Linked DNA regions of Homo sapiens: regions 1 and 2 are each linked to region 3. Evidence: fine-mapped expression QTL. A gene starts in region 3. Each other region holds a variant in brackets. All regions are shown on one strand. Distances are between the middles of the regions.

What was found. PIP is the estimated chance that this variant, and not a neighbour inherited with it, causes the effect.
Region 1: its variant is fine-mapped to the expression of MROH6 in spleen (GTEx, PIP 0.99).
Region 2: its variant is fine-mapped to the expression of MROH6 in whole blood (TOPMed, PIP above 0.99).

The regions. Positions count from the first base shown.
Region 1 is chr8:143,608,554-143,613,553 of GRCh38, forward strand. PYCR3 (pyrroline-5-carboxylate reductase 3) reads right to left here and starts at 1,022. Exons shown (of 6, transcript NM_023078.6): 1 at 905-1,022. The coding sequence starts at 995. It overlaps GFUS (GDP-L-fucose synthase), which reads right to left. Exons shown (of 11, transcript NM_003313.4): 9 at 4,971-5,000; 10 at 4,643-4,742; 11 at 4,065-4,412. The coding sequence ends at 4,357. RefSeq lists an enhancer at 2,130-2,629. The variant C/A (reference allele first, on the strand shown) is at 2,172.
Region 2 is chr8:143,600,348-143,606,332 of GRCh38, forward strand. TIGD5 (tigger transposable element derived 5) reads left to right here. Exons shown (of 1, transcript NM_032862.5): 1 at 1-2,877. It overlaps PYCR3 (pyrroline-5-carboxylate reductase 3), which reads right to left. Exons shown (of 6, transcript NM_023078.6): 5 at 5,715-5,807; 6 at 2,863-5,535. The coding sequence ends at 5,353. Among named protein-coding and RNA genes, the nearest start is that of TIGD5, 5.5 kb to the left of the region's middle. The variant G/A (reference allele first, on the strand shown) is at 2,755.
Region 3 is chr8:143,569,881-143,574,880 of GRCh38, forward strand. MROH6 (maestro heat like repeat family member 6) reads right to left here and starts at 2,892. Exons shown (of 14, transcript NM_001100878.2): 1 at 2,541-2,892; 2 at 2,153-2,305; 3 at 1,787-1,941; 4 at 997-1,114; 5 at 593-777; 6 at 363-500; 7 at 71-185. The coding sequence starts at 2,834. It overlaps NAPRT (nicotinate phosphoribosyltransferase), which reads right to left. Exons shown (of 13, transcript NM_145201.6): 13 at 4,905-5,000. The coding sequence ends at 4,958. RefSeq lists an enhancer at 1,401-2,250.

The sequences.
Region 1 (5,000 bases), 39 kb after region 3:
TGGAATGTCTAAGAAAAGGCTAAATGCCTACTTGGTAGAAATTATCTGCTTTTGTCGGGTACGGGGTGGAAAGATTGGGTTAGATTTTGGTAAGGTCGAACAGGAAGGCACAAGTGTACACCACAACCTGAACACAGCAATTAATCATGACAGTGGCAGCCAAACACACCAGTACTAAGCTCAACACTAGACATTTATGTCTCATTTAACCTGTACAGCTCTGGGAGGCATGCGGTACTGCCAGGTTTCACAGGGAAGACTCCTGAGACTCATAGTAAGCTATTTCCCGATTGATCTTGACTCTTCTGGACCCTGAAGTATGGCTGAAGGCAGAGAGTCAAAAGTCACCCAGCTCTCCCTATCCACAATCTGCAGAGAGGCTTCTAAATGCCTGGAGGAGTATATGGTCAGCATAAATATTCCGGGTATAAAGCAGTGTTTCTCAACAGGGGATGATTTTGCCTGTCTCCTCCCCCCACCCAGGGGACATTCGGCAGTGTCTGGAGGCATTTTTGGCTGTCACAACGTGGGGGTGCTGCTGGCACAGGATGGATAGTCTGGCCCAGGTGTCCCTAGAGCCAAGGTGTCTGGGGGAGAAGCCCTGCTGCTCCCCATGAGAGGGGCTGGCGCGCAAAGAGAAAATCAGAGGCTGGAAGAGGTGAGCCTGGCCAAGGCCACGCGGCCAGGAAGCCGGCCACGGAAGCGGCACCTAGCCACGTGTGACTCAAATCTTCCCGCAGCCACGTCAAAAAAGTAAGAGCAAACAGGCGTGGCCCCGGCTGCGCCCAGCGGAGCGGAGACCCGGTTGGCTGGGCCCGCGCCCCCGGCCCCACTCTCGCGGCAGGACACCTCCCACGGGGCTGCTCCCACTCCAGACCGCAGGCCTAGCCCCGCGCCGCCCCACCTGCTCTGATGAGGCCCTGCGCGATGGCCCCCGCCATGCGGCCCGCGCCCACGAAGCCCACGCGCCGCGGAGACGGCTCCGCAGCTGCCATCTTGTTGCCTCGGACGCCGCTGCGCTCACCGCCCATCCACAGGCCGCGCCCCGCCCACAGATCTAGGCCCCACCCCCGCCCTCCAATAGGACTCGCCTCCCCGTCCCCACCCTCGCCGATTGGTTACTGGGACGGCACACTCCGGCCGGCTTTTTGTCCGCACTCTACAAGTTCGCAAGGCGCGGGAACCCCGCCTCTCGCTGCTTATTGGCCCGAAAGGGCTATGCCGCCCCTCACTGCCCATTGGCTGAGAGAAACTGGGGGCGGGGCCGTAAGGGGCGGGGCCGGCGGGGTACTCGCGCTCGGAGAGGCCGGAGGAGCGGGGAGGGGTCCCGGTCGCGCGTGCGAGGAGCACATGTTGGTTTTCCGGAGGGGAGGGGTAGCGAAGCGGGTTGCGGGGCTGGTCCAGAGCGTGCGGTCACTGAGGCCCCGCCGACCACAGACGGTGGAGCTGCGGGGAAGCACTAGGGGCGGAGACCCAGGTCACGGAGAGCAGGCCAGGGCCAGGGGCCTGAGACCGACGGAGGGGACAGTCGGGGAGGGGGTACTCGTCACTTTTAATGACACAAGGAAAACAAGGCTTGAAGATCTGAGTGCGGTTTTTTCATCATCCAATCTAAAGCTGCATGTTACATATGTTATTTTCTTTTGAAGCCTTTGACATTTTCTTTTTTCTTTTTTTTGAGACGGAGTCTCGCTCTGTCGCCCAGGCTGGAGTGCAGTGGCGCCATCTGGGCTCGCTGCAAGCTCCGTCTCCCGGGTTCACGCCATTCTCCTGCCTCAGCCTCCCAAGTAGCTGGGACTATAGGCGACCGCCACCACGCCCGGCTTATTTTTTTGTATTTTTAGTAGAGATGGGGTTTCACCTTGTTAGCCAGGATGGTCTCAATCTCCTGACCTCGTGATCCACCTGCCTCGGCCTCCCAAAGTGCTGGGATTACAGGCGTGAGCCACCGTGCCGGCCCAAGCCTTTGACATTTTCTAAGCTCTTCAGTAATGAAATCCTCTCATTGATTCAACATTCACTGTGCAGCTGCAGCCTCTGGGCCCTGCTCTGGGCCTGGGCAAGATCACCCCACGGCAGCAGATGGGACAGGCTGGACCCCACCCTGCAGCCCTGCTTGGTGGCAGTGTAGACAGACTACAGTCAGCACACACGCAGGACAGCCAGTGTGT[C/A]AAGGCTCTGAAGCAAATGAGGTGGAAAGGGACAGAAAGCCACCAGGAGGCTGCTTCGGCCACTGCAGCCGAGAAACGTGGGTGGTGGACACTTTGCACCAGCACACAGCGTCAGCAGCTGTATCTCCTGCCACCTCGGATCCTCCCAGCCCCTTCCCACAGACTCCCTGGATTTTCTCCCAGGCCCCCTGGGCCAGTGATGGCTCAGGACCAAGGCTGTGGGGAGGTGAGAGGGGCCAGAGGCATCCAGTGCCATGCCATCATACATAAGGACAAAGCTCATCATAAACAAGTGGACTGAGGCGAGGTGAAGGAGGATTGCTGGCTGAGTGCCCAGGGCCACAGTGGGTAAAAGGAGGCCCAGGGGCCCAGCCCCGTTCAGCTTCTCCGTCCCATGCCGGGCTGGGCTTCTGAGCATCAGCTGGGAGCCCTCAGCTGACGTGGACACCCAGCCAGCCAAGGCTTGTGTCCAGGGCACCTCTCTGCTCTTGGCTGGGCTTCTTCCCACTGTTCACCTGGTGGATCCAAGCAGCCACATAGGCGCCACCCTCTCCAGGAGGCCTTTCCTGAACCCCCACATGGGCAGAGCCTTTATCCACAAAGGGCTGGGGCCAGGGGATACACTGTGAACGAGGCCAACCCGTCTCCTGGAGCTCGAGGTCCTGGGGTGTCAGCGGGAGGGTTAGGGGTTGAGGCGGGGCTCCCAGAGGTTTCCAGACAAACAATCCCAGCAGGGCAGGGTGGATGCTCCGAGAGGCGCTGTGAAGGTGCCATCAGGGAAGGTGTTTTGGAGGCTGGGCCACCTCAGCTGAGGCCTAAAAGGTAGGGAGGCCTTGACCCAAGAGGGGGCCAGTCTCAGGGGAGGCCTGGAGGACACCTCGGCTTGCTGGACACAAAGGGACAGTGAGAGATGAGGTGAGCGGTTGGCTGGGTGCAGGACACACCGGTCTGGACTCAGTGCCGGGACAGGGAGGACACATCACCGCTGCCGGAATGAACGAAGAAGTGAAGCAGCAGGTCCTACCTGCAGCCAAAAGGCATCATGTGCGTGAAGACGGCACAGGGCGCCCAGGAGAGGGACCCTGAGGACGTGGGCCCAGAGTTGGGCCAGGAGCCAGGGAGGGCATCTGGGTCCTGGATGCAGTGGACCAGAGGGTTCTGGCATAGGGGCTCCCTCTGTGAGAGGCACTGAGAAAGGGGGCGACGGGCAAGCCGGGGCCTGGAGCCCAGTGCTCCTGGTCCATACCCCAGCGCCACCCTGCCTGGCTGAGGCACTGGCCCGGGAACCATTCTGGACTTTGCTGTCTCCCCTCTGAGAATGGACGGGGGCGGCGAGCAATGACACCCCACCTCTGGTGGCTGGAGCTGACCTGTCCAGCAGGCACCTGTCCCTCTCCATGGGATAAGGCCAGGTGGGGGACCCACGCCCAAGCCTGAGAGCCACAGAGAGGAGGGGCCAGGCCAGGGGAAGCCCGAGCCACCCAATCATCAGCCTCCCCTCATATCCATCCATGGGCTCAGCTCGGCTGGCTCACTAGACGTTTCTGGCCCACTAGACCAGCTTCCCCAGAGCCCTCAGGCTGAGGCAGGGAGGTCCGGGTGAGCTCAAGTTACTCAGGCCTGCAGGTGGCCACATGTGGAGGGGCTGGGACTGGCCCTGCCCTGCACATCCTTGTCCAGCTGACAGTCCACACCAGTCTCACTGCTGCCTGCCTGCTGCCTGCCCACGTGTGCCTTCCCATCTCCAGCCTCTGCGGCCTTTCCACCCCAGGGAGTCACCAGCTCTTGGGGGCTGAACAGTAAGCCAGGGGGATAGTGGGTCCTGGGACTGGCCAGGCTAGGGGGCAGTCCCTGGGTGTGGGGGACGGCTCAGCACAGAGCTGCCAAGGCCAGGCCTGTGAAAATGCACTTTATTGGCTCCCAGGGAGTGGGATGCAGGATCAGAGTGGACACGCGCAGGGGGCTGGTGTGGGGAGCAAAGCGCCGGGCCTGCCCGGGACCCTGGTTTCCCTGAGGACCAACGTGAATGGGGGCCCCACTGGAAAGATGCTTGGGGCTGCAGAGCGGATGGAATGCAGGCCCAGGTTGCTGGGTGGTGCCCTCAGCTCCTGGCAGGGTTGACGGGTGGTGGCCGCTGGGCTCTGCCAGCCGATGGTCCGCTGGCACCTGATCCTGTCTTCCAGCTTCACTTCCGGGCCTGCTCGTAGTTGTCAGTGAACCAAGCACAGGTCTCCTTCACCGCTGCAGAGGCAGGCAGGTGAGGGCCATGGACAGGGAGGGTCGGGGCCGCATGGGAGGAAGTGGGGGGAGGAGGCCCAGGGACAGGGAAGTCACCCCTCAGAGCTTTGGTGTCCCACCTCCAGGGCAGTACAGGCTCTGAGGGGGCACCTCACCTCTGCCCTGGTAGCGAGCATGAGGGAGGGGCTGGGGCAGGCCTCCACCAAGTGGAGGGCTGTGGGGTCAGGGCTCACCCTGCTTGAAGGGTGTGAACCGGAAGTCGGGCAGGTAGGTCCTCAGCTTGCTGTTACTGGCTGTCTTCTTAAACTGCCCATCCGACTTGGTTGTATCAAACTGGAGGCTTTGTCAAGGCCACAGCGAGAAGAGCACCTCCACCCCAGCCCCCGCAGCTTGCCCTTGAACCTCTGCCATTCCCAGGGGAGCCACAGCAGAGCTCCTCCGCCTGCCAGGGTGAGCATCCTCCCTCCGCAGTGTCCCACCCACGCTGGCCCTACACCGGGTGGCCACTGAGCCCGCCCAAGGGGCCCCCGCCCAACCCCCAGCACTGGAGCCAGAGGATACGGTGACTTCCCCATGGAAGTCCATGGCCTC
Region 2 (5,985 bases), 31 kb after region 3:
GTGGGCTGGTCTCGGGCCGCCCTGCGGTTTCTCTGGAGGTCAGAGGCCCCAGGTACTGGAGCATCACTGTGGAGTGGGAGGGGTGGAGCCCTGTATTAGGTTCTGGGTGCAGCAGGGAGGTGTAGAGTTCCGTTTCCTTGGATTTTTAGTTTTCCCTAAGAAAACTGAACAGATCTCTTATTCCGTGGGATTGGCAGCTGCCTGGCTTTGGGCCCTGGTGACTTGGCCAACGGCAGGAGAGTTTCCCCTGCTTCCTCATCAGCCACAGACCATTCTGTCCAGTCCCAGGGCCTGGAGCCACCTGACTTACCTGGAAGCAGGCCCTGGCATTAGCCCCCAGGGCAATACGCAGTGCCACCCTCTGTGGGCTCTCCTCCCCACCCTCAGACTTTTCTGCCTCTCCTGGGACTGCCAAGGATGTGGCTGACAAGCTGCTCCTGGGAGGCCTACTTTGAAAGGAGGAAAGGGCCCCAGGGCCTGTCAAACCCTGGTTCTGTTCTGCTCTGGCCAGGTCTAGACCTACAGTCCTTCTGGTTGGACTGGGGCCAGGGATGCCCATGCCTCCTCAGGTAGGGTGGGAACTGCCTTTGCAGAGATGCTGCCCGAGCTGGTGTGAGGGGCAGGGAGCTGGCCTGCTTGCCTCCAGGTGTTGACCCCTCGTCCCCATCTGCCCCCAGTGTCCTCCTAGGAGAGGGAACCTTGAAAACCCAGAGTTGTGGAGTGCAGGGGTAGGCTGGAGGCCTGCACGGGGAAGGGAAGGGCTGTGCACCAGCTTGGCAGTGGGGCAGCTGGAGGGTGTCCCCCAAAAGTGACCTTTATACAGGTCCAGGAACAAACAGTTCCTTGGAACTGCCCGCAAGTGAAGAAATATATACATATATATGTATATATCTATATCTCAAAATCTGAGAGCTCAGGGAGGCCGTGGAAATTTGGGGAAGAAGAAACAGACTCCCTGAGCAGAGCTCAGGGCAGCAGCTCCAGGCATGCCTGCTGAGCCCATCAGGCCACCGCCACCTGCAGGAAGAGCCTCTGGCCTGAACTGCTGGGGATGGGCTGCAGAAAGCCTGAGACATTTGGGCCAGCACCTTCCCAGGGGCACAGGCCCCCAAGGCGGGGACACCACCTCTGCTCTGCCAGGCCTGCCTCCAGGGCTCTGAGGAGAAGCTGACTTCACGGCCGCGGTGCCAGTGAGGGCTGCATAGCCAGGCCTTGTCTGTAGTCTGGGCGGCCCGTGGCGCTGCCCTTCAGCCCAACTACTCATTGCCGCTGCGTCTTTGGCGAGGCTTTCATTTCCAACCTTTCTTCCCATCTCAGCCCTTTTGTTGGCCCGGGTCCCAGGAGGCTGGTGTCGGTGAGGGCAGGCCCGCTCCTCTCATCGGGGTGGCTGTGGCCTGTCCCCCAGTCCCTCAATGGCCACTTTCTATAAACAAGGCAGCACTAATTTTTGCTATAAGATAAAAGAGGCCAGGCACGTTGGCTCACACCTGTCATCCCAGCACTTTGGGAGGCTGAGGCGGGTGGATCACCTGAGATTGGGAGTTCGAGACCAGCCTGGCCAACATGGTGAAAACCCCGTCTCTACTAAAAATACAAAAATTAGCTGGGCGTGGTGGCAGGTGCCTGTAACCCTAGCTACTCAGGAGGCTGAGGCACGAGAAATGCTTGAAGCCAGAAGGCAGAGATTGCAGTGAGCCAAGATCACAACACCGCGCTCCAGTCTGCGCGACAGAGCGAGACTCTGTCTCAAAAAAAAAAAAAAAAAAGTGCAGGTGCACGCTGGTGGGGACATTAGGAGCCTGTCAAGAGTGGGTCTGCCTGCTGGCACTTACTAGACGGGAAATACCCCCTAAAGAGGGCTTAAAAAGCATCTTCTCCCTAGCACGGGGCATGCTGGCACAGGGTGCTGTGTGACAGAGGCTTGGCCGCTGGGCCCCGCTGCTGAGAAGGCTGCTCTGCCCATGCCTGGCCCTGTGGGCAGTGCCAGCCATGGATCCCTGAGACCCTGGGCTGGAACCTGGGGCCCCGTCCCAGCCCTACCTGCAGCTCACTAACCCTCTCTGGGTTCTGCTCAGTGTCTGAAGTGATGGAAAGACCCCAGGGTTGGTGGCTGTAGCGGCCCCCAGGGGTGGCAGAACCCTTTGGGAGGCCAAGTGTTCTTTCCCAAAGCTGCGCGGGTGCCATCGCCTGCCAGGCCCTGGCTGTGGTGACAGACGTGGGCTGGGGTGAGGCTGCATCTGCTTCCTCTAACAGCCGTGGCTGCCTGCGGGCTCTGGCCTCCGCTCTGGCAGATTCTGCACATTCCCTGCAGGCGCAGGGGTGGGTGGGGGTGCCTGTGGCCTCGGAGGTACAGCCAGCTGTCCTCAGCTCAGATGGCCCCCAAGAGCCCCCAGCTCCTGTTCACTGCTCTTCCAGTTAGTGACCCCCGTGTCAGCATCATTGTCAGAGTTCCTGGGCTTGTGGGGGCTGGAGAAGGGAAGGCGCTGAGGAGGGAAAGATGAGTGCAGGTTTTGTTGAAACCACCCGACCCGCGTTTTCAGGGGGACGAGGCCACTGCCTTGGCCCAAGGACCTGCAGGCTTGGGGGACCCCCTCGATGTCCACTGGGCTGCGGATGAAACATCACACTGTGGTAGGAAAGGAAGGGGAGCACCCCCAGACGGGGGGGTCCTGCAGAGACCCCAACCCCTTACCTACCTAGTTGAGACACCCATGGGGAGCAGCCCCAACAGCATGTCGGAGTCCCTAGGCTTGT[G/A]GGGTCATGCTCTGTTGAGGGCCCTTCCTCTAACTGGCGAGCTTGTTTACAGCTGAGCTCGCCTGGTCAGATGGGCCCAGTGGCTTTATCTAATAAAGGCTGGACATGTCCACTTCATGAGCATCCCTGTTTTGAAGTCTTATTTTTAAACTCTTGATCCAACGCTTGGATCAGGAATACCCCCTAGATTAACAGTTGGGGCATAGGGCATAAAAGTGGAACATTGATCAAAGATACCGTAATCATATCCATCGTTTTCTGTCTTGAAGAACAGTTTTCACCTGGAAGTAGAAGGCACAGGGGAGGCCTGGCTCACCACAACGCTCCCTGCCGTGCCGAGAACTGAGCCCGTGTCTTTGTCACAGGCCCTCACCAGCTGGGCCAGGAGTGGCTGGCTTGGGATCTCCACCTCCCGAGCTGAGCTCACCTAGTGCCCAGGGCTTGTCAGAGGTCCCAGGGGGAGACAGGTGTTGGTGCAAAGTCAATGATTTCTCCTTGCAGATGGGCTTGGTGTGAATGCAGGTGGCCGTCAGAAGGGCTGTCCACCTTCCTTCAGGGGGCCGCCTGCACCAGACCCCAGGCTCCCAGGCCTGCCCAGGCTTGGCATACAGTCCCCTGGGGTGACAGCGTGCAGGGGAAACTGCAATTCCATGCCCTACAAAGCCCCCAGGTGATGTAGAGGCCTGTAGCAGGCATGGGGAGACCTCTGCTGTCCACAGTGCCAGCACCCCCTTCGGCTGACACCTGTGCTTGACCAAGGTTCCAGGCCTCAACTTATGGGGCAGGCATTGGACCTTCTTTTTTTTTTTTTCCAAGACAGAGTCTTGCTGTCACCCAGGCTGGAGTGCAGTGGCATGATCTTGGCTCTCTGCAATCTCCGCCTCCTGGATTCAAGCAATTCTCCTGCCTCAGCCTCCCAAGTAGCTGGGATTACAGGCACGCACCACCACATCCAGCTAATTTTGTATTTTTAGTAGAGATGGGGTTTCTCCATGTTGGTCAGGTTGGTCTCAAACTCCTGACTTTGTGATCTGCCCGCCTCGGCCTCCCAAAGTGCTGGAATTACAGATGTGAGCCACTGGGCCCAGCCCAGAACTTGGTTTTATCCACCTCTGGTGAAACATGAGCTCACTTGGTGCTCTCTGGCCTCTTTATTCCCATCTCCTTAGGCTGACCCTGACAAGTGCCAGGGCCAGGCTTGGACCAAGCAGTCAACTGAGTCAGCCTGCCCTGGGAACCAGGCAGGGGAGGGAGCTTACGGACGGGCTAGGCTCAGGAGAGTAAGAGAGAGCAGATGAAGGGCAGAAGTCCGTGGCCGCAGAGGCAGCTGAGCATGAGGGATGGAGCGTGCTGCTGTCCTGCAGGTGCCGTTAGCCCTGTTTTGCACTGGTGGATTGATCTGCTCAGGCGCACAGGGAGATGGCACAGCAGGACCCGCCGCCCAGCCTCGCTGAGGGCATGCTCCCGCCTCACCTCCAGAGGCTGTTGGGCGGAAGCCGAGAGCTGCAGCAGTTGGGGCCAGCGTGGGACTGGAGGCCCAGGTGAATCTTGTGGGGCAGGGGACGGAGCTGAGGCTGTCCGGCCCGGGCCCTCCCCACCCAAAGGCCCTAGAACCCTAGCCTTCAATCCTGGGGGTTTGCTTCTCCCCTGAGTCCTGGCTTTCCTGACCTGCCGTCCGTTAGGGACAGGTGGAGGGGCCAAGTCTTGCCATCAGAGGCCAGTGTGGTGGTGCCAGAGCTACGGGGTATTCCAGGACCCCTGACCTAGGCACGGGGCAGGAGGGCCCAGAGCCACCTGGCCACTTGTCAGGAGCTTAGGATTGGGAGGAAAGAGGGAGCCTGTATCCAGACTAAAGCCAGGGGTCTGCATGTGTCCTGGCTGGCCAGGGCCACCCTCCCAGACCTCAAGCCACCCCACCTACCACTGCCCACCTGGTGCCACCCCAGCACTGCCGCAGACCTGGCCCAGCAGCTCCTGCTCCTTAGCAGGGGATGAGCACGCCCACCACAGCCACCCTCTTCTCCAGGCTGCAGGGCAGGCTCCAGCTCCCCATGGGGGCCCCATCAGGCCAGGGCCCCTGGCTTTACTGCAGGGGAGAGGGTCTCTTGTGCAGACCCCATATGGCTCGTGCCCCCTAGAGCTGAGATGAGGCAGCCGGCCTGGCTGTAGCTGCACGGAGCCACCTGGAAAGCCAAAGGCAAGCTCCAGCTCCAGACCAGGCATTGGGCCAGCCGTGCCTGTTACCGTAAGTTCTGTTCATGGCCTCAACCAACTGCCCAACCATGCGGGCAAATGACCAAGACGCCATCTCTTGGGCCCCTCAGAACCAATGTTGCAGCAAGGTGGGCTCACTGCAGCAAGGGGCAGAGCCACCACCACGGTGCCTTCTGCTCACTGGGGAGGGAGGAGTGTCCCCACTGGTCGGGGCTCCCCCGCCTGCTGGAACCTCCCAAGTCCTGCCCCCTGCATTTCCCTGTGCAAGGGGAGAAGGAGCAGTAGGAGACCCTCATGCAGGAGGGAGGGAGCCGCAGTCCTCAGGGGAAGGGACACAGGGAGAGGCAGGGGCACAGAGGCAGGAAAGGATGGCCAGAGCCCAGCCTACTTTCTGCTGAGCTCCTTGGCCCGGCAGGTGGCAGCCTCCACGGCGCTCATGGTGGCTGCTCGCAGCCCGCCCTGCTCCAGGGCGTGGAGTCCATAGATGGTGGTGCCACCCGGGGTGCACACGTCTGAGCGCAGCTGGGCTGGGTGTTGGCCCTCGTGCAGCAGCATCTTGGCCGTCCCCTGAGGAGAGCGTTAGGGCCTGGTGACGGGGGGAGGTGGTGCGGTCCCCACTGTGCGGCCTGCCCTCGTTGCATCCCCCAACCTTGGCCCCAGCTTCTCGAGCCTGCTGTTTCCCTGCGCACTGGAAGAGGTACAGGCCTGGGCCTTCCCGATGTTCCCCAGGGGCCACCCTCACTCACCAGCAGGGTCTGGGCAGCGATGCGGTGGGCCAGGCTGCTGGGCATGCCCATCTTGACGGCTCCTTCAGCCAGGGCCTCGGAGAATGCACACACCTGTAGCCGCGGCATGGTGGTTGGGGGGGATAGGTGTCAAAGCCTGGGGGCTCAGGACCTTCAGGAACAATGCCCAGAGCAGTAGCCGTGGGTGGCCAGAACCAAGGCCTGAGCCCAACGGTCTGCAAAGGGGCTGGCCTCAAAGATCCCCAAGGCAGTGAAGTCCCGGGGACAAGCA
Region 3 (5,000 bases):
TGCAGGCCGCTGCGATTCAGGGATCAAGTCCAGGGTCACCCTTCACCACCCATCCGGGAAGCAGGCTCACCCCTGTGAAGAAGGCCATAGCCGTGAGACGCTGCGGGTCGTCCGCGCTGCGAAGCCGAGGGAGCAAGTCTGCGAAGAGGCCTCGCAGGTGGTGGTCGGCATGTGCCACCATAGCACTGGGGTGGGTGGAAATGGGAGCTCTCGCTCCGTTTGGCGGCCTTTCTCCTCGAGAAGACCCCATCCCAACACCACCCTCATGCCCCTGCCTTTTCCCTGTCCCCCTGCCCAGCACCTGGCCAGCAACGACTCTCTTCCTGGTGTGACACCCTGGGGCCCCTCCTCACCCTCCTCACCTGGCCAGCAGCAGGACGCCCTCCAGGTGGGTGTGGGCTCCCACCAGCCTCCTCCAGCCTCCTGCCTGCTCCATGCACGTGACCACCATGCGGCCTCCATCCCCGGTGAGCAGCGCCTTCAAGGCCTCCACAGCACAGCTGGTGGTGGGGACAGTGAGCAGGTGGGCAGTGGGAGCTGAGAGGGTGACAGCATGCTGGCCCGCCCCACGTAACCTGGTGTTGCCTCTCACCTGGCATGGCTATGTGGTGGCCCTCGGTGGGACAGAACCCAAATCTTGGGCATGTCGGGGGAGCACGGGCTGCGGGCCAGCTTGTGCAGCTGTGTGACCAGCGCAAGCAGCAGATGTGGGTAGAAGCCCCTCGTGGCTCCCACGCAGCCCGAAACAGCCAGCATCTCCCCAAGAGCACGTGTGGCCTGTGGAGCAAGTGGCCCACTCAGGCCTGGGGCACGCCTGGAGCTGCACTGGGCAGCAGAGGGACAGGCGTGCTGTCAACAGGATGGGGACAGCCTCAGACACGCATGGGACATTCCAGGAGCAGTTACCTAGGTGCAAACTCCCTATGCCCATCCTCCCCGCTCCTCGCCACCCCCCACCCCCGCCCCCACCCCCTGGTAATGGCTGGAGCCACCTACCGCCAGTGCCTGGGGCTCCGGCCCCGAAGCACCCTTCAGCGCCCACAGCAGTTGCACCAGCACCTGCCCATTTACACGCTGGTTACGGCTTAGGCTGCGCCAGAGCTCGGCTGCTACCCTGAGGGTTTGGAGGGGGCTGGTGTGAGACAAGAGATGGGTGGGTGTCCAGGGAATGTAGGGAGTCCCCAGCCAGGGTGGAGGCAGCCAGTAGGACTCCAGCAGGGGAGGGGCAGGAAACCCCTCCCATCTCCCCCCATCCCCAAATCTCAGAGAAACAAATGAAGGGTTAATTGTGCAGACCACAACATAGCCTATCTCAAGCTGAGCTGCAGGGTGGGGACCCACTGGGAGTCCCGTTGGGTCAGCGACAGTGAAACAAACCTGGCATTATTAAAAAGAAAAAAATTGCCACAGAGAATAAAACCAAAGATAACTTCTGGGGCCAATTAACCAAAGAGCCAGGGGTGTCCAGGCACGTTAGCCCCCCAGCCTCATTCACCCCACTCCGGAGCCAACCCCAGGACGGTCTCCAGGGGAGGCCACCCGAAGATAGAAGGTGGCTCCAAGAGAGGAGCCCAGCATCAGAAACTCTGTGGCAGGAGTGTGGGGGGAGTTTGCGGAGCTAAAAATGAGGGGAGCGGGAATGGATACGGGGCATGAGTCATCGCGGGGCTGGAATAAGGAGGCCCTGCCCCTTTTCAGCTCCCTCTTCTGGGGCCAGACTCCACCGCCAAGCGGGAAGAGGGAAGGAAGCCGCGTGGGGACCGCAGGGCCAGGACGGTTGGGTTACCGATCGGCGGGCAGAGAGCGGGGTAGCAGCGCACACACCACGTCCCGCGCATGCTCCAGGGCCAGTGCGCTCAGCACTCGCAGGGCCGCCCTCCAGGGCCTCCCCTCCGCTAGGCTGGGCACCTGCGCCAGCAGCCCACGCACCAGAGCATGCACCTGGTGGGGAAGGGGGCAGACTTCAGCAGTCAGGCCTCCTCCACCGTCCATTCCCCTCTGGCCTGCACCCCACCTCCACCCCCACCCTGATCCCGCCTGGCAGGAGCAGCCTGAAGATGGCAGGGTCAGGCTGCGCTCTCCAGGCCCCTCCCACCACCTTGGTGCCCGAACCGGCAGGATTCTGTAGGGCATGAAGTGGGTGAAGGCTGACCTGGTCCTCCAACCGCTCGCCCCGGGCCTCCAGGGCTGAGGACAGGGTGAGCACTGTCGCCTGGGTCCCTGCAAAGCCAGCCTCCTCCAGGCAGGCAGCCGTGTACAACGCGAGGTCGGCAAGAACTCCCTCCTCCCAGGAACTCTGGGGAACCTAGGGCAGGATGGGTGGGGCGTCTGAAGTGCCCAAACCTCTCCTAGCTCTCCTCCTGGTCCCTCGGCCTCCCACCTGGCTTCCTACAAAATCCCTTGCTCCTCTGTTGCTCACCAGCCTGTTTCACGCTGACCTCCCCCGGGGCCAGCACCGCCCCCCTGCCACCCCGCCTTCCACCTACCATCCACAGGACCCCCAGGCCGGTTCGCACAACATCCCTTCCCTCCCCCGTCACCTGGTGGGGCCCCTCAGGGGCTGGTTCCAGGGCACTGTTGAGGGAGCAGGGCTCGCTGCCAGCTTCAGGGACGGTGGCCCCACGTCCAGGCTCTGCCTCAGAGGGGGCGGTGAGTGCCTGGGTCTGTGGCTCAGCCTCAGGTTTGACCTCCCAGGACTTGGGCTGAGGGCCTGCGGAAGGGGGTCCCTGGGGCTGCCCCTGCCTGGCCCGGATTCCTTCAGTCAGTGCTGTCAGGGTTAGAGCCCCCACGGGAGCCTCCCGGGCCCGGCTCCGGCCCCACACACCCCCAGCCATGGCGGCCCTTGCCTGCAGCACCTGCCGCTGCTCCTCCTGCGAAGTTGTGCCCAGGACTGACCTAGAAGCCGCCCCGGGCGGGACCACGGACGGGCGTGGTGGCGTGCGCTAGCGTGAGCTTGCGGGGGCTGGGGAGCCACACGGACGTGCCTACAATGGGCCTTTGAGGGGCCCTCCTGCCTGGGCTGCTGGAGGGGAGTGGCCACCTGCAGCCTGAGTGCCTGTGGTGTGGCTCTACCCACCAGGGCCCTGAGAACAGGATCCCCAAGAGCTGGCAGATCCACGAAGAAAGGGGGAGAAGGGCCCCCACCCTGACTACCAGCCCCTGTTGACCAGGGAGCTCAGGGCAGTTGTGGACAGCTCTGAGGAGGTCCTCGCAGGGTCCAGGAGTCTGGGCCCCACCCTGAGTCGAGGCCTGATTCAGCCCCCAAGCAGCAGTCAGCTCCCCACTGGGCCTGGGGCTAGGGGCTGGCCCCGCCCCCTGCACGCTGGCTCCGCCCCCTGCACGCTGGCTCTGTCAGACACCTTGCAACAGGCATGACTGGGTGAGCTTGGGGCAGCCCGGAGGTGTGGAGGGGGCAGTGAAGACACCAGAGGAGCGGTGGCCCCTCCAGAGCTTGTGCAGGCCCCTCTGGGTCCTGGGTCCTTGGCCAAATCTCATGTTGAAACGTAATCCCCAGTGCTGGAGGTGGGGCCTGGTGGGAAGTGATTGGATCCTGGGGGCAACTTCCCCCTTTGGTGCTGTTCCCATGATAAGACTTCTCAAGATCTGGTTGTCTGGAAGTGCGTGGCACCGCCCCACCCCTTCCTCCGGCCATGTAAGACCTGCCCGCTTCCGCTTCCACCAAGATGGTAAGTTTCCTGAAGCCTCCCCAGCCATGCTTCCTGTACCTGCAGAACCACAGGCCAATTAAACCTCTCTTCCTTAGAAATTACCCAGTCTCAGGTATTTCTTTACAGCAGTGCAAGAACGGAAGAATACAGCCACTCTGGCTGGGCCCCTCGGAGTGCGCGGGTGCCCTGGGGGTGCCTGGGGTGTGGTGTGTTCTGTCCAATGTGTGTGAGTCTGTATCTCTCTCCTAGCTCGTACTCCCCGGGGCTGGCTGGACTGGGCCTCTGCTCCAAGTCCCCACCCTCCACCCTCAGCCAACCACACAGTGGTGCTGCCCACCCTGAAGCCCGGGGAGCCAGGTGAGCTGGTCTGGTGGAATGCCTGGGCAGACGGAAGTGCCCCAGGCGGTCAGCATTCCCCCCACACCCTTGCCTGTCTGTGCCACCTCAGGCTGCTTCGACAAGAGAGGCCCAGGCCCCCAGCCTCCACTTCCTGCCAAGCCTAGAACCTCTCCCCCAAGCAGTTCCTCTTGAAGCTCACGTTGCCCAAACTGGCGGAACCCTGAGATCAGGAACTTGCTGGTGCAGAGGCAGGGCCAGCCCAGCACAGCCACGTGCAGTGCCACTCTGGCCAGGTGTCTGGGGCTGAGTCATCTCCTGGAGCTTCAACTTCTTCCCCATTCTTCCTCTCCTTCCGTGGGCTGCTGGGTCAGGAGCTGTGTCCCTGACGCCAGATGCCAGGGTGGTGCTGGGTTGGCAGCAGCAGTGGCAGGAGACACCTGAGCACTCCCTTTTGACTTGGGGAGTTTGAGACGTCTTCACTGACCCTGAGCCTGGGGGGCAGTGCCTAGGCAGGCGTGGGAGCCCAGGGCCACGGCTGGACCCTCTTACCTGGCACTACCCCCAACCCTGTCCTGTCCCCAGCCTGCCTCTAGCAAGGAAAGGTCTGCAGCAACTCCCTCAACTCCAAGGCAGACACCAAAGCCCTCCCTGCCTGTGGCTTTGTAGTTCTAGTGTGGGATCTGACTCCCCACAGCCTACCCAAAGCCGGGGAACTCCTCACTGCCCTTCGGGCTTCAGCACAGGGCTGTCTCCCACGCCGGCAGGGCCTGTGCTTTCACTGGGATGCAAATCTTCCTGCTACCTCGAGCTCAGATTCCCGACTCCAGCCCAGCCGCAGCCCGGGAGGCGCAGCCCGTGGGCTGGGTGAACAAACGACACAAACAACACAGGACAAGCTGTGGGGAAAAGTGAGTGATTCGTGTTGTTTCCAGTCAGCCCCGCTCCGAGTCTCAGGGGGACTGCCCCGCACACAGACTGTTCACCAGGGCCTGC